7 linked regions of the Homo sapiens genome follow. The protein of the gene in region 1 interacts with the protein of each later gene in a biochemical or structural test. Each region holds a gene or a part of one and is shown in the gene's direction. Other genes may lie near its edges. The genes, in order: EPAS1, PDK1, KPNA1, NDN, KPNA6, ESR1 and CHD4.

What was found.
Region 2: of the proteins of EPAS1 (region 1) and PDK1, one has a biochemical effect on the other in vitro, tested with the Homo sapiens proteins (one study listed by IntAct).
Region 3: the proteins of EPAS1 (region 1) and KPNA1 form a complex in vitro, tested with the Homo sapiens proteins (one study listed by BioGRID).
Region 4: the proteins of EPAS1 (region 1) and NDN form a complex in vitro, tested with the Homo sapiens proteins (one study listed by BioGRID).
Region 5: the proteins of EPAS1 (region 1) and KPNA6 form a complex in vitro, tested with the Homo sapiens proteins (one study listed by BioGRID).
Region 6: the proteins of EPAS1 (region 1) and ESR1 form a complex in vitro, tested with the Homo sapiens proteins (one study listed by BioGRID).
Region 7: the proteins of EPAS1 (region 1) and CHD4 form a complex in vitro, tested with the Homo sapiens proteins (one study listed by BioGRID).

The regions. Positions count from the first base shown.
Region 1 is NC_000002.12:46,380,907-46,384,406, forward strand, and holds part of EPAS1 (endothelial PAS domain-containing protein 1), read left to right. Parts: intron 1-689; coding exon 690-816; intron 817-1,068; coding exon 1,069-1,183; intron 1,184-1,518; coding exon 1,519-1,692; intron 1,693-3,500.
Region 2 is NC_000002.12:172,566,090-172,569,589, forward strand, and holds part of PDK1 ([Pyruvate dehydrogenase (acetyl-transferring)] kinase isozyme 1, mitochondrial isoform 2 precursor), read left to right. Parts: intron 1-766; coding exon 767-844; intron 845-1,110; coding exon of another isoform or gene 1,111-1,127; exon of another isoform or gene 1,128-1,933; intron 1,934-2,651; coding exon 2,652-2,728; intron 2,729-3,500. UniProt on the Homo sapiens protein: Kinase that plays a key role in regulation of glucose and fatty acid metabolism and homeostasis via phosphorylation of the pyruvate dehydrogenase subunits PDHA1 and PDHA2.
Region 3 is NC_000003.12:122,466,440-122,469,939, reverse strand, and holds part of KPNA1 (importin subunit alpha-5), read left to right. Parts: intron 1-2,510; coding exon 2,511-2,618; intron 2,619-3,500. UniProt on the Homo sapiens protein: Functions in nuclear protein import as an adapter protein for nuclear receptor KPNB1. Binds specifically and directly to substrates containing either a simple or bipartite NLS motif.
Region 4 is NC_000015.10:23,684,900-23,688,579, reverse strand, and holds NDN (necdin), read left to right. Parts: upstream 1-1,274; 5' UTR 1,275-1,362; coding exon 1,363-2,328; 3' UTR 2,329-3,180; downstream 3,181-3,680. UniProt on the Homo sapiens protein: Growth suppressor that facilitates the entry of the cell into cell cycle arrest.
Region 5 is NC_000001.11:32,163,556-32,167,055, forward strand, and holds part of KPNA6 (importin subunit alpha-7), read left to right. Parts: intron 1-2,549; coding exon 2,550-2,675; intron 2,676-3,500. UniProt on the Homo sapiens protein: Functions in nuclear protein import as an adapter protein for nuclear receptor KPNB1. Binds specifically and directly to substrates containing either a simple or bipartite NLS motif.
Region 6 is NC_000006.12:151,943,682-151,947,181, forward strand, and holds part of ESR1 (estrogen receptor), read left to right. Parts: intron 1-491; coding exon 492-827; intron 828-3,500.
Region 7 is NC_000012.12:6,590,380-6,593,879, reverse strand, and holds part of CHD4 (chromodomain-helicase-DNA-binding protein 4), read left to right. Parts: intron 1-263; coding exon 264-464; intron 465-651; coding exon 652-789; intron 790-1,062; coding exon 1,063-1,184; intron 1,185-1,313; coding exon 1,314-1,487; intron 1,488-1,822; coding exon 1,823-1,964; intron 1,965-2,054; coding exon 2,055-2,186; intron 2,187-2,296; coding exon 2,297-2,414; intron 2,415-3,500. UniProt on the Homo sapiens protein: ATP-dependent chromatin-remodeling factor that binds and distorts nucleosomal DNA. Acts as a component of the histone deacetylase NuRD complex which participates in the remodeling of chromatin.

The DNA.
Region 1 (3,500 bases):
ATCTGGGCTGCCACTGAGGGCAGGCAAAGAAGTGGCTTGTTGAGAGCCCTGTACCTCAGTGTCTCCCTTCGGACCACCACCAGAGTGCCTTTCGTATCTCGGTTCATCATCTGAGCCACACAGAAAATTGAGTGATGATTTTCCCTGGTTGAAAACAGCAAAAAGATACCCCTGCCTCCCCTTGCCTTTTGGCTGCCCCCGGGTCCTCGCCACTGCAGCCTCTCCCAGCTGTGCCTAGGCTCCAGAAATGCCTTCCCATCTCCCCAGCATGCTCATTTCACCAGCTGCGAGCTCACTGGGCTAAGGCACAGGGGTTGGTACATGACCTGCCACTCCCAGGGGCCGCTGGTACTTGCCCTTTATAGAGCAGCCAAACTAGTTTTCAGTGGGAGCAAAAGGCAGAGGAGAGACATGGGCAGAAGAAACCCTCCTAAGGACTAACATTGCCCAGCCAGGCAGCCATCCCCCAGACCAGGAGGCTTGAGCCCTTCAGCATCTTATAGCTGAGGAAGGAGACAGAGCTCGAGCTCGGCCTGCAGGTGCACAGCCTGCCTCTGAGACTCTGCCTTTTGGGTCTTTGAGTCATCACAGGCATCAGCATTGGGACTGGAAGGGCCCCTAAGATGAGAAGGCACTGAGTGGCATGTGGCTCCAGACTCCCTCATAGCCTGCTCTCTCGGGCTTGGCAGGTCTGCAAAGGGTTTTGGGGCTCGAGGCCCAGACGTGCTGAGTCCGGCCATGGTAGCCCTCTCCAACAAGCTGAAGCTGAAGCGACAGCTGGAGTATGAAGAGCAAGCCTTCCAGGACCTGAGCGGGGTGAGTCATCCCCACTGGCCACAGGGGCCTCTCCATAGCCCTTAGGGAACCCAGGGCTGCTGAGAGGGGTGGGGATGTGGCCCTTCCAAGCCAGCATAGCCCTTAGGGAACCCAGGGCTGCTGAGAGGGGTGGGGATGTGGCCCTTCCAAGCCAGCAAGTGCCAGCCCTGTTCCAGGCCCACCCAACCCACCCAGTCTGGGGACCTGGTTCTCTGGCCATTTCCCCTTTCCATCTGCCCTTCTTACTCCCAGGGGGACCCACCTGGTGGCAGCACCTCACATTTGATGTGGAAACGGATGAAGAACCTCAGGGGTGGGAGCTGCCCTTTGATGCCGGACAAGCCACTGAGCGCAAATGTACCCAATGGTGAGCAGCGGCCACAGGCCTGGGCCTCCTGGGGGTTCTGGTGGAAGGACTGGGGCTCGGGAGCCCATCCTGGTTCTTCCATTCACCACAGGCCGTACCTGCCTCTCTGAGCCTTGTTAGAATGGGGCGATGTCCTCTGTCTCTCCCGCAGTCCCACACACCCAACTTTTCCATCTCCACTCTGACTTAGATGATGCCATCAGAGGGTCCTGAAGGTTGGCTGTAGTTCTGGTGACTCTGAGCACCTTTTATAAAGGAAAGGGATGCTAGGGCTTCCTGGCCTCTCCCCTCCCTCAGGCCAATGCTACCGTCACTCTCTGACTTTGGTCTTTCAGATAAGTTCACCCAAAACCCCATGAGGGGCCTGGGCCATCCCCTGAGACATCTGCCGCTGCCACAGCCTCCATCTGCCATCAGTCCCGGGGAGAACAGCAAGAGCAGGTTCCCCCCACAGTGCTACGCCACCCAGTACCAGGACTACAGCCTGTCGTCAGCCCACAAGGTGTCAGGTGGGTGTGCCCAGGATCTGTCACCCCCATCCCAGGATTCGATGCCAGGGGAAGCCCACGTCTACTTTTTTTCCAGCGTCTGCACAGTGCCAGGCACAGGGAGGTGCTTGACTTGAAGTCACCTATACAGGGCTCAGGTCTCCTTGGATTTAGGGAACCTCCTCACAAGTTCCTTGTGACATCAGTGATCAGGCCCCCCAGTGGGTGGGTCTGAGACACAGCTAAAAAACTCAAACTCAGGCTAGAATACTGAAGGAAAGAATGCAGACCACTACCGACTGCCCAAAGAGGACTGAACACTGAACACTGGGTTGGCGACCCCCAGAACACTGTACCACTGTTGACAGGAGCACTTTCAGAAGAAAGAGCAGGCGGCCACAGTGGTGAGGGCCTGTTGAAGAAGAGAAGAGAAAGTTCAGAGAGAGAGAGTTGGGAAGCGGTCTGGGCAGAGGCAGGGGATCTCCCGTCTATGCAAGGATGAGCTTGCTGCGTGGAGAAGGGAGTGCTCCTTCCCTGGGGCTTTAGGGAGAACCCTCCCATGATCAGGTGCCATCCAGGGCTCTTTCCACCCTGAGAATCCCGGAGCCTTGCCCCTTCCTCAGTTCTTCATGTGGATGTGTTTTGGGGTGTCACTCTGAGTTCAGGCAGGTGCTGAGAACATGCCAAAACTTCCTTCAGGTAGAACAGCCTGGAAAGCTCTGGTAGGCCCACCCCACTGGACTTGGTTCAACTGCAGGCACCAATGCCTGCCTTCAACCCTGGGCCACCTTCATCTTGACAGTATCTTGTGAAACATATATGTCTTCATGAGGTTTGTTTGGCCTGAAAATAATTCGTGGTTTATGGAAAAACATACCAGGCCCCTGTTCTAAAAGGCAATTTCCTCAGCAATAGAGTTTGGGGAAGGTTATAGTTCTGTGCTTCAGAGTCCAGGCTGTAGAAACACCAGACAGCCCTGGCTTAAATTCTGGCTCTGCTGTTGAGTTCAGGGGCTGGTATATATTTATGTGCAGTAAGAGGTAGCCAGCACTATTCTTCCTGTTATGTGAAGCCCACGAATTACCTTGAATATTGAAATCAAGGGAAAATCATATTCTTTTCAAAAGAGTTGAATCATATCAAACTCTTTTCTGACCATGAATAAGAGAAGTTAGCAAGGGATGGTGAGCAGGTATCCATTGATACTGTCCACAGGAGCAGTCAAGCTGGGGAGGCAGGCATGGACCCCAGCAAGGATCTGAGCTAGGAGGTGCAGGAGGCAATGGCCACTGGAACGAGGCTCTGCAGATAAGGGAAGGTGGGTGGGCATCTCCCATCGGAGGGGCAGAATGCAGGGCTTCCAGGCTCTCTGCTGCCACCTAAGCCTTTCCTCCTTGGGATGGGGGCCTGTGTGTGTGCTGCGAGTGTCCCCCCTGCCACTCCCTGGTCTGCCTCCTCGGCAAGAGAATAGCACAGAGGCAAGAAGAAAGGACTGCTGAGGGTGGTGACCAGAAACTGGATTTTCAGACTGTTGAATCTTGAGGCAGTCTGTGTTTGCATCTGTATGTATGTGTGTGTTCTGCATGTTCTGTGTATGTGAGCATAGGTGCCAGGTGGTTCAGCCTTTCCTCCCTGCTGCCAGGAGGCATGGGGGTCAGCAACCCCAGGCTCTTCCTGAAGCTTCCACATACCTGTGCTGCAGCCCGCACCTCACGCTTTCCTCTTTCTTGGGTCTCAGCACCCCACCTGAGGCAGTGGTTCTGGAGGCAGACACGTTCCCCGGGCATGCAGCAGGCCGTGGGACAGACACCACTGAAGGAGCAGAGTGA
Region 2 (3,500 bases), about 130 Mb from region 1:
TCCTAACCAACTCTTAAGTTTTGTTACATAGATAGCAATTATTTTCTCCAGCCTGTTATTTTTCTTTTTTACATTGTTGGTGTCTTTTTAGCATATAGACTTTTACATTTTTTTTGTAGTTATATTTGTCATTCATTGTTTATGGCTATTCAGCTTTGTCATGTCACACTTAGACTTTCCCTGGGCCAGGCACAGTGGCTCATGCCTATAATCCCAGCACTTTGGAAGGCTGAAGCGGGTGGATCACCTGAGGTCAGGAGTTCGAGACCAGCCTGGCCAACATGGTGAAACCCCCTCTGTACTGAAAATACAAAAATTAGCTGGGCGTGGTGACCCATGCCTACGTAGTCCCAGCTACTTGGGAGGCTGAGGCAGGAGAATCGCTTGAACCAGGGAGGTGGAGGCTGCAGTGAGCCGAGATAGCGCCACTGCACTCCAGCCTGGTTGATCGAGACTCCGTCTCAAAGGAAAAAAAAAAAGGAAAGGCTTTCCCTGGTTGGGGGCAGTGGTTCATGCCTGTAATCCTAGCACCAAGGCAGGAGGATGGCTTGAGCCTGGGAGTTGGAGACAAACCTGAGCAATATAGGGAGACCATGTCTCTACCAAAAAAAAAAAAAAAAAAAGCAGACTTTCACCAAACTATCAAAGTATATTTTCTTCTGTAGAGAGTTCAAGACTTTGATTTGTCAATACCATTGCCATCTTAATGCGTGAAAGAGAAGTATATTTATTAAATCCTTTTTTGTTTTGTTTTGATTCACACTAGATGGCTATGAAAATGCTAGGCGTCTGTGTGATTTGTATTATATTAACTCTCCCGAACTAGAACTTGAAGAACTAAATGGTAAGCCTGATGTTGTCTTTTTCTCAATAATTAGTGCTTTGATTACTTGATAAGGGATAAGAATTTAAATGTTTTAATGGAAGATGACTTTTTATCAACTTCGTTGGATATGAAGGCTAAAGGATAGTAATCATGTAAAAAATATATCTATAAACATATGTAATTTAGTCAGATTCTTTATGAAAAGATTTGGCTTTTTGTATCACATTTTCTTTATTTTTAATTGATAACTTTGATTCTTTGCTTATTTTTTATTTTCTGTTTAGTCATAGAAAGAAAATGATACCAAGAAAGTTACATTTGACTTTTACATGCACTTCACTAATGTAAGACTTACCCTTTTTCTACTTCCTGAGTTGTAAATAATTTTCTGTTGTTGAGGACATAGACTGGGGTTATAAAAGAGGAAAGAAAGATGCTCATCTATTTGAGAATCTGTTTGTCTCTGATGGTTTTCTTTTTACCCTGATTAGTGCCTTTTGGACAAAAAGGGTTTAGATGCCTTGAAGAGGGATTGATGAGTCTCTTTTTCCTGAAAGCATGGTAGTTTGACAGAAAAAAGCATTTCCTAAGATGACACTTTAAGAAGGTGTGGGAAGAATAAAACAAAATAGGCTTTTACTAAGCTGTATTCTGGACCTTAGAGTGAGAGAGCAGTGAAGTTATGCAATTGAAAATAGCATTGCTTGGTGATTTTCTAAAGCCATATTAACTCTTTTGAGCCATGATGGTAGCATAGCATTTGGTAAATAACAATCACAGTGTACAAGTAAGTGATAGTTTGCAAACCTGAACTGCTGTGAGCAATTTCCAGATGTCCCATTTTTGTTCCCAAGGGGGAGTTTATTCAGAGGAAGGTCTGATTTATTGGTTGAATTAGAATTCTAAGATATCATGAGTCTTAATCATTTGTTCTACTAAATGTCTGTTTTATACACACCCCTATCACCACCCCCAGTGGGGCTCCTATTAAGTGTTTAAATGTAGAATTAATTACTGTCTCGAGAAATTGATGCTAGCTCATATTTTTTATTCAGCTTTATATCCATCGAAATGCCTGAAATAAAACAATATTCCACCCAGGTGAAACATTTTGAAAATGGCTTAAAGAATGTATGGGCTGGGCGCAGTGGCTCACATCTATAATCCCAGCACTTTGGGAGGCCGAGGCGGGTGGCTCACAAGGTCAGGAGTTCGAGACAAGCCTGGCCAATATGGTGAAACCCGTCTCTACTAAAAGAAAAATCAGCCAGGCGTGGTGGTTGGCGCCTGTAATCCCAGCTACTCGGGAGGCTGAGGCAGGAGAATTGCTTGAACCTGGGAAGTGGAGGTTGCAGTGAGCCAAGATCGCGCCACTGCACTCCAGTCTGGGCAACAGAGCAAGACTCCGTCTCAAAAAAAAAAAAAAAAAAAAAAAGAAGAAGAAGAATGTATGCATGCATGTGAATTGGACTGTGGAATTTAAAGATTTTAACACTTCTCTATTTGGAAAGTAAAATTCCTACCCGAAAGTTAAGCGATCTTAAAAAAGACTTTACCATCCTAGAGAAAAATGGGCGCATGGGTTGGTTCGATTGTGATGCAAGATTGTGAGAAGTGACCACAGGACTCTTGTCATCATCAGTTGTAAATATTTGTGGGTATGGGTTCAAACACTAATACATTGAAGAAATGGTGTGGCAGTTCTCCCCCAGGTAATACTGTCCTCCGTAGTTAATGTTTTCTTTTCATCACTACACAGTTTATTCTTAAAAATGCTTTAAGCACATCTCTCTGTACTTTCATATTTTTCTCTTCTGCTCTGTAGCAAAATCACCAGGACAGCCAATACAAGTGGTTTATGTACCATCCCATCTCTATCACATGGTGTTTGAACTTTTCAAGGTTTGTAAAATAGTATTACATAACCTTTACCAGTACTTTTCTGAGGTTAGGAATCTGCTCTGAAAGCCAAATATTCCACTAGGTTCTCCTATTAAGAAGTGCCATTTCACATCAGTATCATATCACATTGCTGGAGATCAGCTTTTTATCAACACAGGGAGACATCTCCATGTAGTGGTGAGCTCAGACTATGGAGTCAGAAAGACCTGGGTTTGAATCCCAATTATGGCTCTTAATATGTGTGTGACCTTGGGCAAGTCACTCAACCTCTCTGAGCCTCAGTTTCCTTTTCTGTAAAACAAGAATACTGTCCAGGATTGTTTATGACTATTGGGAATAACATACTAAGTGTCCAGTACAGTGGCAACGTATTACATATAGGTGCTCAATAGAGTTATCTTTATGTTTTTATAAAACAATATTTAGAAGAGTGATTCTCAACTTGCTACCCTCAAAGGACCAGAATTCTTTTTTTGGTCTGGCTTTTCTTGGGAGGGGGAGGTCATTTATATTGACTTACAGGGTTTCTGCTGTAATCTTTGCTCTTTACAACAAAATTTGAAAACAAATTATGCTACTAATATTGAGAGTATCTTTTTTCCCCGCCAATAATACTTGCTGGTTGACAAGAAAATGGGTGAGGAGTGAGGGGCACAGGTCCTGGTGGGTGAAAATGATTGCCCTCTATCAGAAGCTTGTAGTCTCTCTTCAGTTGTGTTTCATCAGCCAGCAGCAAACTAGAGGAAAGAGGGGGTGGCTTTCAATCTGATAA
Region 3 (3,500 bases), on another chromosome or scaffold:
GTTTCCACTTTTGAAGGATGATTTTGCAAGGTTCAGAGTTTCTAGGTTGGTGGTTTTCTCTCTCAACACTTCAAATATTTCACTTCACTTTCTTCTGGCATGTGTGGTTATCATTCTTATCTTTATTCATGTGTTAAGTACAGTGTTTTTACCCTTGTCTTTTAGGATTGTTTTTCCTTTATTTCTGATTTTCTGTTGTTTGAAAATGATATCCCTAGGTGTAGTGGGATTTTTTTGGCCTTTGTCCAGCTTGGTGTTCTCTGGGCTTCCAGTGGTTTTGTTCCCAGACCAAACTGGGTTGGGCTGCTGTTTCTCATGGCCCAATAACAAGATGCAGATGAACTGGGGAGGAAGAGAGTTTTTATTTTTGTACCTGGTTACAGGGAGAAGGCCTAGAAATTATTGCCAGACCAACTCGAAATTACAAAGTTTTCCAGATATTATATACCTTTTAAGCTATATGTCTGCGTGTAAGTGTGTATTCATCTAAAGACATAAGTGATGAAACTTCTTTTAATCTGTAACTAAGGTCTGAGTCTTGAAGACCTTCCTCTGGAGTCTCAGTAAATTTACTTAATCTAGGTGCTGAGGTGATTACCCTTATCTTGTCTCCTGCTCGTGGAGGTTTGGGGAGTTCTTTCAGACATCCAATAAACTTGTTTGTGGAGGCCTGGGGAATTTCTTTGTTATGCTTTAAGGCCCAGGAAAGGCCTAGGCAAAACTCTTGGTGGGCTTTTGTTAGATTCCAGCCTTTGTATAAGGGCACTGGCTTTTTTTAGCTTTTAATATTTAACTTAACCAGTCAGTCAGTACTGAAACAGTTGTTATGGAGCCCTGCATTAATGAGACATGGCCTGCTACAGTTTGGTGTCTGATACTAATTTGGGGGAAATTCTCAGTCATTATTGTGTCAAATATTTCTTTTGTTCTTTCCTCTCCTCCTGATAGTTCCATTCCATGTTTATTATACCATTTGTAGTTGTTTCAGTTCATAGATACTCTGTTCTATTTGTGTCAGTCCTTTTTCTGTTTTCTTTTCAGTTTTAAAGATTTCGAATGAGATTTCCTTAAGCTCAGAGATTATTTCCTTAGCTGTGTCTTGTTTACTAAAAAGTCGATCAAAGGCATTCTTCATTTCTGTTGTTGTTGATCTCTTGCATTTCTTTTTAGTTCTTTTTTAGAATTTCCATCTCTCTCCTTACATTGCCTATCTGTTCTTGTATGCTGTCCACTTTATCCATTTAAAGCCCTTAGCATATTAATCGTAGTTTTAAATTCTTGGTCCGATAATCTCAACATCACTGCCGTGGCTGAATCTGGTTCTGATACTTGCTCTGTCTCTTCAAAATGTGTTTTTTATATTTTAGTATGCCTTGTAATTTTTTCTTGATAGCTGGACATGTACTGGGTAAAAGAAACTACTGTTAAATAGGCCTTTGGTAGGTGGTTTTGGTATTAAGAGTAATGCTGATCTCCTAGAATGAGTTGAGAAGTACTGTCTCTGCTTCTGTCTTCTGAAAGAATATGATTATGTGCTGATTAGTATTAAGTTAAATCTCAGAGAGAACCTCCTGTAGATCTTGGGTGTTCTTTTTGTGTTGTACTCTGCGTTATGAATTTTAGGTCTCTTGGCCTTCTCAGCTCTGAACTGTGTTTTCTCAAATCCAAGGAGCATCTAAACTCTGGTTGAGTTTACCTTTCCTGCACTGCAGCCTGGAACTGTCTGCATAGTAATCTGAGGCAGTATTGGGGCTTATCTTGGGTTTTTCTTTCTGAGATATCACTACTCTGTGGTTTTTATTGTCCAATGGCTGAAACATTATTTTATGTATTTTGTCTGTTTTTAGTTGTTCAGCGTGAGAGAGGGTAAGTTACTGTTACTCCATCATGGCTTGATGAATAAATGTGCTGCCCAGGATTCATAAGGATATAATGGTAATCACCCTCGTTGGCTGACTTTGGAGAGAACTAGTCTCCTTTGCCTATACACATTAACGGAGCTGCTTTAAAGGTAGTGCTTAAGCAGTCATCATTTGTTGCCACTGGTTGCTGGATAGGTTGGGAAGGTCAGAAGCCACAGTCCACCATCTTTGGAGATTAGGAGGGAAGTATTAAGTCATTTGAACATAGTTTTTATTTTCATTTTCCTTGGTACATTGTTAGGACTGTCCTGATGTATACTTTACATAAAGGGATGAGGAAAATGGCCAAGCATGACCCAGCTCCTTTTTCCAACCTTTTTTTTTTTAATGTCATATAGTGTCAGACCTCTCTTAGTAAGTTTTACATTATCAAGTGTTGTTTATAGCATGTTGTAATAGTTAATTATATTTGATTATAAGACTATGGAGAAATCTGAAATGGTTACTCATCAGTAAAAGCTGACAGCTTTAGAATTTTAAAAATGATTTTCAAAGACTTCACTTTGAATGGGGTGCCTAGTATTTGAATGTTGAACTCCCTTGTGTTAGAATTTACATTTACATTGCTACCAATCTTTTATCTTTCAGTTATTCAAGCGGAGAAATGTTGCTACAGCAGAAGAAGAAACAGAAGAAGAAGTTATGTCAGATGGAGGCTTTCATGAGGCTCAGATTAGTAACATGGAGATGGCACCAGTAAGATAATGAACTCTTTTCAGTGTTTTTGTGATGAAGATATGAGATGTAGATTTCCTTTTGAGTTTTAAAAAAGGTTAGATGGCTACAAAAAGTACTTGGCATTTCATTTTTAAAAAGAATATGCTTAATCTCATGGTTCATTAAATGTTTATTATATTTTGGATAAAGTGCAGTTAAATTATAAAGATTAATTCTGCTCTAAAAACTTAACAAGCTAATTATAAGATAAAATTACTCTTTAAAAGTTGAATAAGAATAGACACCTTATTTATTTATTTATTTATTTATTTATTTATTTATTTATTTATTTATGTTTTAGAGACAGGGTCTTGCTGTGTTGCCCAGGTTGGAGTGCAGTGGCGCAATCGTAGGTCACTGCAACCTCGAACTCCTGGGCTTAAGTGATCCTCCTGCTTTAGCCTCCCAAATAGCTGGGACTACAGGCATGTGCCACCATGACTGGCAAATTTTTAAATTTTTTGTGGAGACAGGATCTCACTGTGTTGCCCAGGTGAACTCCTGGCCTCAAGTGATCCTTTTGCCTTGGCCTCCCAAAGTGCTAGAATTACAAGCTTGAGCCATCACACCAAGCCATAAGAGATACTTTAAAGAAAATAATGATTTTTTATTGATTTACAAAATTGACCTGTTTGTATGATTTAAAAACTTGATTCCACATCAGAACTCTTGGATTTTTCTGTTGTAAACCATTTTGTTACTTTTTTGAAGTTAACATGAAGAGATAAAAGTCATGCTTTATTTGTATGGATTAGACCTATCTAGATTTCTAGAGTATTGTAATTACGTAATTTTAAAAATAGGTTATATATGTGTACATATATATATATGTGTACACACACACAGTTTTTTTAAAAAGAA
Region 4 (3,680 bases), on another chromosome or scaffold:
CTTTCAACATCAACCTGCTTGAGGAAAAATAAAGTGGGAAAAGATACATACTCACAGTGAGGACTCTAGACATGTCAAGACAATTTTTAAATATGCTTTTGGCTTCGAGTGGCAATAACTAGATTCAAGACAGCATATTTAAGAAGCTGCTGATGAGAAGAAACCCGGGAAGAGCTGAAGGACCACATCAGCCCAGACCAAGGATGCTGAAGCAGCATTAAGGTCCCTGGTTTCAGATGCTCAGGCAATGACCCTTTTTTTCATGGAGAGCCTGTAGGAGTGACAGTTTTGTCTTTGCCCACTGGGAATCTGTTTTCCATACCTGGAAAACAGGGTTACCTATGTTTCCCCTGCTACCCTTTGGTCATCTCAGAGACACTACCAGATATTACCCATGGGACCTATTTTTTTTTTAAATCTCAGGAAAGACTTGGGTGTGGCTTCCAACGTGGAGGACTCAGTAGCTTCAGAGAGGGTCCTGAGAGAAGGTGAATTGAAGAATGAGGGTGCTGGGCAGAGGGAAAAGACATTATCATACAAGTTTGTGCTAAAAGATATAGCAATCCTTCTGCTATGGACTAAGTATGGAAAAAAATAAAATGGAATCAAAGTTACCCAAAGGAAGTGTAAAACCCAAATTTATGCCCGTTAAAGCATTAATGATGCTCTAAGTCCACTGCCTACTTAAAAAGTTCATAGTTCACATGGGTTGATAGGAAATTACGTTAACGACACACTGCATTTCCCCTTTTCTTATAGCCTATCTGATTTGGTAGGGAGTCGATCATTTTTTATTGGAATTTCTCAGGATTCCAACCTCAGACATCCACTTTACAGTTTACACATTTTCTTGGACAAGCCCGACTGTTCCTCTCACTGGTTCGCATAAAGCTCATGTTTACAAAGCCGCCCAGACCTTTCTCTGGGACTCTCATATTTAACTTAATTCTGGATATACCCAGGTAAGCGTTTCCCAAGAAACTTGACCCCAACATCCCAAAAACTTAAGGTATCTTTCCCTTAAACTGGCCCCTTCTCCAGTACGCATCCATCTCACTTCTCTCCTGCCCTAGATCTTCTCAGCCCAAACAGGAAACCCCGGGATCGCTCTCCCAGCAGGTGAAGCCTCGCCATGGACCCTCCCCGTCGGGGCCCCGCGCTGCCCCGCCCGCCCCCAGCCGCTGGCCAAGGCCGCGGTCGCGCAGGCGCAGTGCCGCGTCCCGCCGCCGCCCCGCCCTGCCCGTCGCTGCGGAAGGCGCCGCGCGCAGCAACGCGCACTTCCTCTCCAGGAATCCGCGGAGGGAGCGCAGGCTCGAAGAGCTCCTGGACGCAGAGGCCCTGCCCTTGCCAGACGGCGCAGACATGTCAGAACAAAGTAAGGATCTGAGCGACCCTAACTTTGCAGCCGAGGCCCCCAACTCCGAGGTGCACAGCAGCCCTGGGGTTTCGGAGGGGGTTCCTCCGTCCGCGACCCTGGCAGAGCCGCAGAGCCCTCCTCTAGGCCCGACGGCCGCTCCGCAGGCCGCGCCGCCTCCCCAGGCCCCGAACGACGAGGGCGACCCGAAGGCCCTGCAGCAGGCTGCGGAGGAGGGCCGCGCCCACCAGGCCCCGAGCGCGGCCCAGCCGGGCCCGGCACCGCCAGCCCCGGCGCAGCTGGTGCAGAAGGCGCACGAGCTCATGTGGTACGTGCTGGTCAAGGACCAGAAGAAGATGATCATCTGGTTTCCAGACATGGTGAAAGATGTCATCGGCAGCTACAAGAAGTGGTGCAGGAGCATCCTCCGGCGCACCAGCCTCATCCTCGCCCGGGTGTTCGGGCTGCACCTGAGGCTAACCAGCCTGCACACCATGGAGTTTGCGCTGGTCAAAGCGCTGGAGCCCGAGGAGCTGGACAGGGTGGCGCTGAGCAACCGCATGCCCATGACAGGCCTCCTGCTCATGATCCTGAGCCTCATCTACGTGAAGGGCCGCGGCGCCAGAGAGAGCGCCGTCTGGAACGTGCTGCGCATCCTGGGGCTGCGGCCCTGGAAGAAGCACTCCACCTTCGGGGACGTGCGGAAGCTCATCACTGAGGAGTTCGTCCAAATGAATTACCTGAAGTACCAGCGCGTCCCATACGTGGAGCCGCCCGAATACGAGTTCTTTTGGGGCTCCCGGGCCAGCCGCGAAATCACCAAGATGCAAATCATGGAGTTCCTGGCCAGGGTCTTTAAGAAAGACCCCCAGGCCTGGCCCTCCCGATACAGAGAAGCTCTGGAGGAGGCCAGAGCTCTGCGGGAGGCTAATCCCACTGCCCACTACCCTCGCAGCAGTGTCTCTGAGGACTAGCAAAGTCTGGAGGCAGATGAATGGTTTCTGACCCTCACCAGGGCTGTGGAAGGGTGGGGGTGGGTCATTATAGTATTCAGGATTTACAGTGCAGTATTCACGTGTAACTTTTAAGTTTTCAGTACAGTGCTTTTATACCTTTAATGCAATGTTGTATTCATTTGGGTACTATTGTGTAGTATTTAGGATGTATGCATGTTTGTTTATATGTAAGCTTGGTTGGTGCTTTCGCTTTTGTGCTACCTTTCTTGGATTTTTGTACCAGAGATGTGCTAAACTGATGAAATACATTGAGAAAGTTTCCATCTTATTCTTTTATATGGGACTGATGATGTGTGTTGGGGTAGACTGCTCCTGCAGAGTTTGGAAGAAGTCACCAGCAAAGCCGGCCTAACCAAGAAAAGTCAAGGCCCTTCATGACCTTGCTGGGCACAGAAAACACCCTCGTGGAGTACACTAATTTGAACTGGACTGGTCTCAGTGTGAGCACTTGGCACACTTTACTAAACACATATACAACCCCACCGTGAGTCAACTTTAAAGTAAACATTAAAGATTCTTGTGATACAATCATTTTTGGAAAAGTGTACTTTATCATTTTAACAAAGCAGTATGGTTGGGAATGAGACAATTCTCTATTTTACAGTGTATACAGATACAACTATTTCCCCTAATAGGGTGGGAAAAATCGCTACTCATGATTACTCCTAAATTTGTGAAGTTTATAGTTCTATTGTCTTTAAATGTAACTCATGTTTATTTCAAAAACATTCACAAATATAGAAAAGTATACAAAACAAAACAGTAAGATTGTCTGTAATCACATCATATGGGAATAAAAAACAAAAATAATTTCCTTCCCTTAAGTTTCTACATTTTATCAAAATTAATAGATGTCTTGTGACATCTATTAATATACATATAACATATTTATAATATAAAAGAGTGAGACATTGTGCTAAGCCCTAACATGTATTTTTCTCCTTTAATCCTTGCAACAGGCCTGTCAGGCAGGCACCTACTGCCTCTGCACCATGGAGGAAACACAGGAATAATGTAGGTAATGAACTTTCCATAGCTCATAAAGGTTAATAAGAGAAGGAGCTAGGACTTGAACTCAGAATGAATCCAGAGCCCACATTTGTCTCCACCTGCCTACGACTGCCCTATACCCCGTGGCTTTTAGGTTATTTATTTTTAAATTTATTTTTACATTTTATGTGGGAGCCTACAATCACATGGGTTCATGGGCCACACATACAAAAAGGCTAGGAATTTTATTTTTCTAATTCTCATGATATTTTGGAGAAAGCAATATCATTCTGATTGTGCAAATTAAGAAACTTACTTTT
Region 5 (3,500 bases), on another chromosome or scaffold:
GAAAACTAAGTGGAATAACTGGACTTACCACCTGGGACATTGTGAGTTAGTTAAGTTTGAGTCATGGTCCCTTTGAGATACTGAAAGCTATGGAACTCCACCCCTGCTTCCTAGATCTTTAAGGTCTCATGGATATCATGGACCTTGGAATAATCTTTTGTAAATAACCCTTCTGGTGAAGGCATAGTAAACAAAGTTCCCCTGCTCAAAGGCTAGAGATTTGGGTATTCTTTGGGTTTTGAGTAGCGAGCATAATTCTGTGGGATTCTGGACAGGTTTCTTAACAGGTGAGTAGTGTCACTCAAACACTCAAACCCACATGCTCATTTTCTGGGTTACTTTGTATATGTATATGCATGTACTTTAAAATACAACATAAAATTTACCATTTTAACCATTGGCATAAAGTACATTCACATTGTTTTTCCGTTATTGCCACTAGCCAGCTACAGAAATTTTTTATCATCTCAAACTGAAACCGTACACATTAAACAGTAACTCCCCATTCTCCCTTCCCCTAGTGCCTAGTAACCACCATTCTATTTTCTGTATCTGTGAGTTTGAGTGCTCTAAGTACCTCATGTAAGTGGAATCATACAGTGTTTATTCTTTCTCGTCTGGTTTATTTCACTTAGCCTAGTATCTTTAAAATTCGTTCATGTTGTAGCATGCATCAGAACTCCTTTGAAAGGCTGAATGATATTCCACTGTATGTATATACCATATTTTATTTATCCATCAATAGACATTTGGGTTGTTTCCACCTTTTGGCTATTGTGAATAATGCTGCTATGAACATTGGTGTACAAATATTTGTTCAAGTCCCCGGTATATACCCAGAGTGGAATTGCTGGATCATGTTCTAATTTTATGCCTAATTTTTTTGAGGGGACACCATACTGTTCTGCACAGCTGCTATGCCATCTTACATTCCCACCAACAATGCAGCATGTTCCAGTTTCCCCACAGCCTTGCCAACAGTTGTTATTTTCCGTTTTTTGTTTTTTGTTTTTTTTTTGATAATACCCACCCTAATGGGTGTGAAGTGATATTTCATTGTGGTTTTGATTTGCATTTTTCTAATGATTGGTAATGTTGAGCATCTTTTCATATGCTTATTGGCCATCTGTGTATTTTTTTTTTTTTTTTGGACACATGTCTATTCAAGTCTTTTGCTCATGTTTTAATTGGGTTGTTGAGTTTTCTGGTTGTTCAATTTTAGGAGTTCTTCATATGTTCTGGATATTAATCTCTTATCAGACACATGTTTTGCAAATATTTTCTCTTGTTCTGTGGTTTTATCTTTTAACTTTGGTGTCTTTAAAAAAAAAACTTTTAACTTATTTAATTTTTTAAAATTGAGACAGAGTCTGTCTTTGTCACCCAGGCTAGAGTGCAATGATGCCATCTCGGCTCACTGCAACCTCTGCCTCCTGAGCTCAAAGCAGTCCTTCCACCTCAGCCTCCCAAGTAGCTGGGACTACAGGCATGCACCATCATGCCTAGCTAATTTTTTGAATTTGTTTTTTTTTGGAGAGACAGGGTTTTACCATGTTGCCCAGGCTACTCTTGAACTACTGGGCTTAAGCAATCCTCCCACCTTGGCTTCTCAAAGTGCTGGGATTACAGGCATGAAGCCACCTCACCCAGACCAACTTTCTTTTCTTTTTTAATTTTTTTTAGAGGGTCTCACTATGTTGCCCCAGCTGGCCTTGAACTCCTGTGCTGAGGTGATCCTACTGCCTCAGCCTCCTGAGTAGCTGGGACTGCAGGTGCATACCACTGTGCCCAGCTTACTCCAATGTCTTGATGCACAACAGTTTTTCATTTTGATTAAGTCCAGTTTACCTGGGCCAGGTGCAGTGGCTCATGCCTGTAATTCCAGCACTTTGGGAGGCTGAGGCAGGAGGATCACTTGAGCCCAGAAGTTTGAGACCAGCCCTGCAACATGGGAAGACCCTGTCTCTACAAAAAAAAAAAATGTTTTTTAATTAGCAGAGTGCGGTGGCACCCTGCTACTCAGGAGTCCCCAGCTACTCAGGAGGCTGAAGTAGAAGGATTGCTTGAGACTGGGAGGTCAAGGCTGCAGTAAGCCATGATCATGCCACTGCACTCCAGCCTAGGCAACAAAGTGAGACCCTATTTAAAGAAAAAAAATGAAGCCGGGCACAGTGGCTCACACCTGTAATCCCAACACTTTGGGAGGCCGAGGCAGGCAGATCACCTGAGGTCAGGAGCATGAGACCAGCCTGGCCAACATGATGAAACCCCATCTCTACTAAAAATAGAAAAATTTTCCGGGCGTGGTGGTAGGCGTCTGTAATCCAAGCGTCTTGGGAGGCTGAGGCTGGAGAATCACTTGAACCTGGGAGGCGGAGGTTGCAGTGAGCCGAGATTGTGCCATTGCACTCCAGCCTGGGCGTCAGAGCGAGACTCTGTCTCAAAAAAAAAAACAAAAACAACAACAACAACAACAACAACAAAAAAACATAAAAAAAATTAAAAACAGTTTAATTTTTCTTTTGTTTCCTGTGCTTTTGGTGTTCTAGGTCATTCTTAACTGTTCAGCCCTACCTTGCCTTCTCCACTTGTTGAGCAGTCCCAAGGAGTCAATCCGGAAGGAAGCTTGCTGGACTATTTCAAATATTACTGCTGGCAACAGGGCTCAAATACAGGTAAAACAGGCAGGGAAGTCAAGGGGCATGGGAAGTCATAGGAACTTGGGAGGTTGTTGGAATATTTGCTTTCAGAAGAAAGAATTTGTTTCCCTTTAAAAATAGGAGTCAATTGGCCAGGCACGGTGGCTCACGCCTGTAGTCCCAGCACTTTGGGAGGCCGAGGTGGGCAGATCATGAGGTCAGGAGTTTGAGACCATCCTGGCCAACATGGTGAAACCCCATCTGTACTAAAAATACAAAAATTAGATGGGTGTGGTGGCGGACGCCTGTAATCTCAGCTATTCGGGAGGCTGAGGCAGGAGAATTGCTTGAACCCGAGAGGCAAAGGTTGCAGTGAGCTGAGATCACGCCACTGCACTCCAGCCTGGGCAACAGAGCGAGACTCCGTCTCAAAAAAAAAAAAAAAAAAAGAGGGGCTGGGCATGGTGGCTCATGCTTGTAATCCCAGCACTTTGGGAGGCTGAGGTGGGCGGATCACAAGGTCAGGAGATCAAGACCATCCTGGCTAACGTGGTGAAACCATGTCTCTTCTAAAAATACAAAAAAAAAGAAAAATTAGCCGGGCGTGGTGGCAGGCGCCTGTAGTCACAGCTAGTCGGGAGGCTGAGGCAGGAGAATGGCGTGAACCTGGTAGGTGGAGCTTGCAGTGAGCCGAGATCGCGCCACTGCACTCCAGCCTGGGTGACAGAGCAAGACTGTCTCAGAAAATAAATAAATAAATAAATAAATTGGAGTCAGTGTGTACTATTGGTCAAAGAAGCTGTGTAACCAAAACTGGGTTCTTCTGTAGTAGCCTGTCACCTATATAGGAAGAACAAAAGA
Region 6 (3,500 bases), on another chromosome or scaffold:
TTTTAAAAATGCCCTTTTAATTTACTATTAAAAGAATATTCCTAGCAGAAGTAGTCTTGGATGCTAAATTCTATTTTAAGAATAACTAAAATTAGAATTCTGTTCTTTTTATAACACCTGTTACACACACACCCCTACCTAGTGTGTCGGAATCAGTTTGTATGGGCTCACCAAAGCCTACTGTTCAATTTTCAGGAGTTTTGTAAGCCATTTGATGTCAGACAAGTGGCCTGAAGTTTGTTATGGTGGTGGTATTTACACCATGAAAATTGGCATGTTATGGTGGTAGTATTTACACCATGAAAACTGCTACAAATAGAAATCTTTTTCTTCTTCTCTTGGAGAGCCACTTGTTGAACACTTACCAGCTCACCTGTGCTTGAAAGTATTTCTTCAAATAAAATGAAAGCTGGTTAGCTTTGAAAATTTTTTGTATAAAAGTTTACACGGGAAAAAAATAAACTAATTTTTTTTTCCACCTGTGTTTTCAGGGATACGAAAAGACCGAAGAGGAGGGAGAATGTTGAAACACAAGCGCCAGAGAGATGATGGGGAGGGCAGGGGTGAAGTGGGGTCTGCTGGAGACATGAGAGCTGCCAACCTTTGGCCAAGCCCGCTCATGATCAAACGCTCTAAGAAGAACAGCCTGGCCTTGTCCCTGACGGCCGACCAGATGGTCAGTGCCTTGTTGGATGCTGAGCCCCCGATACTCTATTCCGAGTATGATCCTACCAGACCCTTCAGTGAAGCTTCGATGATGGGCTTACTGACCAACCTGGCAGACAGGGAGCTGGTTCACATGATCAACTGGGCGAAGAGGGTGCCAGGTAAGAATGCGAAGCGCAGCTTTTAAGAGTCAATAGCTTTTCAAGAACTTGTTGTGATGTCATGGGAGAAATAGTGGGGGAAAAAGAAGCAATAACATGTTATGTAATTGGTTTCAAGGTTACAGGAGATGTGTTCATTTTCAGTATCAATACACTGTAATTTTCCAGGAGATTAGGAAATAATATTTTTAAATCAGAATCTAGAAGACTGAAATTCTTAAATTGACATAATTTATTTTTAACCCATCTCATTTACCAAAAAGATTTAGGGTGGACACTACATGGTAAAACTATTTAATAGTGTATGTTCACAGTAGCAGAAACTTTTAACACTAAATGAACTACAAAAGTTTGTAATATTAATGACCTTTGTTGAAAACATCTCAATTATTAATCAAACGATTTTATCTTAAAAAGATTTTTAAGATTCGGTGTGGTGGCTCGTGCCTGTAATCCTAGCACTTTTTGGGGCTGAGGTGGGAGGATTGCTTGAGCCCAGGAGCTTGAGGCCATCCGGGGCAACGTGGCGAAACCCTGTCTCTACAACAAATTTTTAAAAATTAGCTGGATGCAGTGGCACACACCTGTGGTCCCAGTTATGGGGGAGGCCGAGGTGAGAGGATGGCTTGAGTCCAGGAGGTCAAAGCTACAGTGAACCATGTTTGTGTGGAGTGCCACTGCACTCCAGCCCAGGTGACAGAGCAAGACCGTGTCATAAAAAATAAACCACACAAAAAAAGAGAAAGATCTTTATGGATTAAAAAGATAATAATAAGTGTATTTACTGAATGCCAATTATTTATCCAACCTGGTGTATGCTTAGTGTTTTAGGAGAAAGAGAAAGGCAATGGAAAAATAAATTAAGGTATCATCCCTGAAAGAAACTTTTAGAAAGACACAGTGGCTGAAGTGATACCTTGTTCCTTCAGTTGATTCTCTCAGAACTGGTGTTCTGGTAAAATTGGACTGTTACTCCTGTTATTCAGGGAGAAGAACTCAAGTTTGTATGGCAACAAGACTAGAAAATGACTTTCTCCCTGCCCCAGTGTATTCGTTCAGGAGCTAATGTAGATAAACCGAGGCAAGAAGAAGCTAAATTTTTTTTCTGGGCTTATAGGTTAAATGAGTGATAGATTTAGTTGGAGGTTTTCTCATTTGGTTTCTTTTAATAGATGAAATTAATTGTTTCCTATGAAGCATGAAATGTTTTATATGAAACTAAAAAAATGTGGAGTTTGTACTTGCATTTCAAGGGTCACTGCTCTGTTATAGGCCAAGTGAACTTATGTCTGGCCTTAGAGAATCTTACATGTATTTGCATCTATCAGTATATAAACATGTGGGCCGTAGAATAAGGAGCCAGCAGTACCAGAACCCAGCCTTGTTAGAGGCCACCATTTTGGTGGTTGAGTGGTTATTAGTTTACATGGAAGCATGGAGAATAATAGGCAAATGTAGGTTTTCAGTGTCAGTCGAACTGGCAAACAAAAATTTCTGGTCATCTTCAGAATGAAAAGTTTTCTTGAGTACCTACATATTTTAGCATTTTCATATGAAGCAGATACATTATAAGTTAATTGTTGGAATCTAATTGTAATATGGCTGTAAGTTTTTTCTTTATATTTGTTATTGCCTTGTTCTTATATTATAGGGAAAGAGAAACAAACAAACAAGCAAAGAAACTAATGGTCATATATTTGAGAGCCAACTCTTGGTTGCTGTTCAGTTTTATTTTCCTGTAAACATATATTTTCCCTTATGAAATCTTGGGAATATTAGCTCTGGAGCACTGCTGAACTCAAGTACAGACATTTTCATGTGTATCAGTAGATTCCCATCATGACATTTTTATAATAATGTTGAAGAGCATTTTAAACAACTGGAATTAAGCTCAAATACATTACCAGTGGTTGAAGAATTCACATCAATAATCTTCTGAATTTAGGAATAAAATGGAGAAGTCAAGGAAAGGAAAATATTATACACAGGCTAGCAATAGTTAAAATACAATTATTAAAGCCAGAGCTAGACAAAATTATGGCAATGAGATGTGTAACAAAACCACTCTGTAACTTCATCATGTTCGTTTAAAAGACCTGAATGATTCCAAAATCCTTAGACCAATAAACTATGTCTTCTTACTTGATAATTAAAAAAAAGAATTATAAAGGCAAAAATGAAATTATATGTATGTGTGTTTGTGTGTGTTCCATGGGAATACAGCTGTTGTAAATCAAAGGCCTACTTGCCTGACCAAGCAGAATAAAAATAGTCATTGATTTTAAAGAGACTAAAAGTGAGGGAAGAAAAAAGTCTTCTGCAAAAGCTCTACAGATGGTTGTCAAACTTTTCAGAAAAATAGACAAAGCAACATTTTGAAAAGGATTTATATCTTTTATATATTCAAATACCATCTGTTATTTAAAAAACATAGCCCACACTGAATATCTGATATAGACAATATAACGTTTATGAGATAATAGTTTGAGAATGACAATAATAATAGTAAGTTTTAAAAGAGGAAATAAGCCGGGCACAGTGGCTCATGCCTGTAATCCCAGCACTTTGGGAGGCCGAGGCGGGTGGATCACCTGAGGTCAGGAGTTCAAGACCAGCCTGGCCAACATGACAAAACCCTGTCTCTACAAAACAGTACAAAAATTAGCCAGGCTT
Region 7 (3,500 bases), on another chromosome or scaffold:
TGGGCAACAAGAGTGAAACTCCGTCTCAGAAAAAAAGTATATAAAGACTTAATGGGAGAGGTAAGACTTGTAGTTATGGTGGGACCTTGGGTTTTTGGAAAGGAGTGGGCTGGGCACTTGTATAGAGGAAGGTGAGAGCAGGAGCAGCAGCGCAGGTGTGTCAGTCCTTGGCTCAGCTTGAGGGGGCAGCAGGGTGGTGGGTGTTCGCTGGGGTTGCAGTGTGCTGGGGCCCTCAGTCCTGACTCTCCTCTTTTTTCTCAAAGGGTCATTCCAAAGGCCCCTTCCTAGTGAGCGCCCCTCTTTCTACCATCATCAACTGGGAGCGGGAGTTTGAAATGTGGGCTCCAGACATGTATGTCGTAACCTATGTGGGTGACAAGGACAGCCGTGCCATCATCCGAGAGAATGAGTTCTCCTTTGAAGACAATGCCATTCGTGGTGGCAAGAAGGCCTCCCGCATGAAGGTATCTCAGGGGAGGGAAGCCACCCTAGAGAAAGAGTTGTGGCTTCTGGCTTAGTTTACCTCCTTGTGATCTGGTCCCTGGTGAGGCAAAAGGGTAACCCTGGGAGGAGGAAAACATTCCATCAGTCTCCTGGTTGTGCTTACACAGAGGAACTGACTAGTAGTGACCAAGTTGCCTTCATGTGCAGAAAGAGGCATCTGTGAAATTCCATGTGCTGCTGACATCCTATGAATTGATCACCATTGACATGGCTATTTTGGGCTCTATTGATTGGGCCTGCCTCATCGTGGATGAAGCCCATCGGCTGAAGAACAATCAGTCTAAGGTGAGGGCTGAGGGAGGGATGTTGGAGCCCCCACTTTGGGTTTTTTCTAGTACTACCAATTCATTAAGGGGAAAACTTGTAGATGGAGAGGAGAGGGGAAAATTGTCTCTGCCTTCCTTCCTTGTATGTGACAGCCCTTGGTGGCCAGGCCTTTAAAAAGAATGTGAGGAGTGGGATGCTTAACTATTGGGCAGTGAAAAACTTGAAATTTTGTAGAGATTTGCTAGAGCTCTGTTTTCATTGGATTTCACCTTTCTCCATCTGCTTCACCAGTTCTTCCGGGTATTGAATGGTTACTCACTCCAGCACAAGCTGTTGCTGACTGGGACACCATTACAAAACAATCTGGAAGAGTTGTTTCATCTGCTCAACTTTCTCACCCCCGAGAGGTTCCAGTAAGTATGTGTTTATCTGTAATCGGCTCATAATTGTGCCTCTCATTCTTCCTGTTGCCCATTTCCTGTATCACTTTTCTTTCTTCCTTTCTCCTTCTCCAATAACTTTTTTCCTTTTTCTTTCTGAAGCAATTTGGAAGGTTTTTTGGAGGAGTTTGCTGACATTGCCAAGGAGGACCAGATAAAAAAACTGCATGACATGCTGGGGCCGCACATGTTGCGGCGGCTCAAAGCCGATGTGTTCAAGAACATGCCCTCCAAGACAGAACTAATTGTGCGTGTGGAGCTGAGCCCTATGCAGAAGTGAGTTGGGAGGGACAGAAGCAGACTCCATTTAGACATCTGCCAGTCTGCAGAGTGTTTCCTATTCCTCCCCCACTCAGCTTCAAGGCATCTGGTGACAGGAGCAAGCAAGGCCTGAAGAAACCTGATGCTAGGGCGCTGGAGCGCATAGTTCTTACTTATTTTAGGTTATACCTTTCCTTATTTAAAATGGTGGTGGTGGTAGTGCTTGTGCGTTAGGTGTCCTTAGTTCCAAAGTGGGATGTGTTGGAAGAAAGATCTCAGTTGTTGGCACTGCATTATTAGTCATTGAAAGGCTCTCAAGTCTAACCTGTCTTTCTACCTTGCCCATGTAGGAAATACTACAAGTACATCCTCACTCGAAATTTTGAAGCACTCAATGCCCGAGGTGGTGGCAACCAGGTGTCTCTGCTGAATGTGGTGATGGATCTTAAGAAGTGCTGCAACCATCCATACCTCTTCCCTGTGGCTGCAATGGTATGTAGTGCCATCTCCTGTTCCTCCCTGGGTTGGGTCTTCTCCATGTGGGCTTTCTTTTAATACTTTTTTCTTTGCATTTGTTCTCAGGAAGCTCCTAAGATGCCTAATGGCATGTATGATGGCAGTGCCCTAATCAGAGCATCTGGGAAATTATTGCTGCTGCAGAAAATGCTCAAGAACCTTAAGGAGGGTGGGCATCGTGTACTCATCTTTTCCCAGGTATCATGTGGACTGGGAGCTTTAGGGAACAGTCATAGACAACCCTTAGTGACCTAAGGAAAGGGATTACCATCTGACTCTTCCATAATTAAACCGTGCTTCTTTTGCAGATGACCAAGATGCTAGACCTGCTAGAGGATTTCTTGGAACATGAAGGTTATAAATACGAACGCATCGATGGTGGAATCACTGGGAACATGCGGCAAGAGGCCATTGACCGCTTCAATGGTGAGAGAGAAGGAGTTGTTTAGTTTCAGGAATCCTCATTTGCTTATATCTTTGGACTGTAACTTCTTGTGCATCTCCTTTTCTGTGTAGTTCTTTTGGGACTTTGTCATTTGAGATGGAGTAAAGCTTTTGAATGTCTCAATTGGACGAATGTATTGGACTATTCCTAGGAGATTTTTTCTTTTGGGGTATTTGTTCTTTCTGCTAGAAAGAAGAAAGCATTGTATCTCGAGGGCAAGCAAAGGGTCAGGACTTGTTCAAGCTCAAATAGCAAGTTACTAGCAGACTTGTCTGCCTCAGTAGACGCTACTAGGTTTTTTTTTTTTTTTTTTTTTTTTTTTTTGAGATGGAGTCTTGCTCTGTCGCCCAGGCTGGAGTGCAGCGGCACGATCTTGGCTCACTGCAACCTCCGCCTCCCGGGTTCAAGCAGTTCTCCTGCCTCAGCCTCCCAAGTAGCTGGGACAACAGGCGTGTGCCACCACGCCCAGCTAATTTTTGTATTTTTAGTAGAGATGTGGTTTCACCATGTTGGCCAAGATGGTCTCGATCTCCTGACCTCATGATCCGCCCACCTCGGCCTCCCAAAGTGCTGGGATTACAGGCACGAGCCACCACGCCCAGCCTGTTTTGTTTTGTTTATTCGAGATAGGGTCTCACTCTGTTGCCGAGGCTGGAGAGCAGTGGCACAATCATGGCTTACTACAGCCTGGACACACCCCCAGGCTCAAGTGATCCTGCTGCTTCAGCCTCCCAACTAGCTGGGGCTGTAGGCTTGATCCACTGTACCTAGCTAACTAAAAAAATTTTTTTGTAGAGATGGGGTCTTGCCATGTTGCCCAGGCTGATCACAAAGTTCTGGGCTCAAGCAATCCTCCTGCCTTGGCCTCCCAAAGTATTGAGATTATAGGCATAAGCCACTGTGCTCAGTATCACTACTCCTTGTTTAAAAAAAAAAAACTTTTTATTTTAATTTTAGACTTAGAAAAAAGTTGCAAAACAGCAGAGAGAGTTCATGTATACTGTTCAACTAGCTAGCTTCTCTTAATAATAACTTACGTAACTGCAGTACAATGATCAAAACTAGAA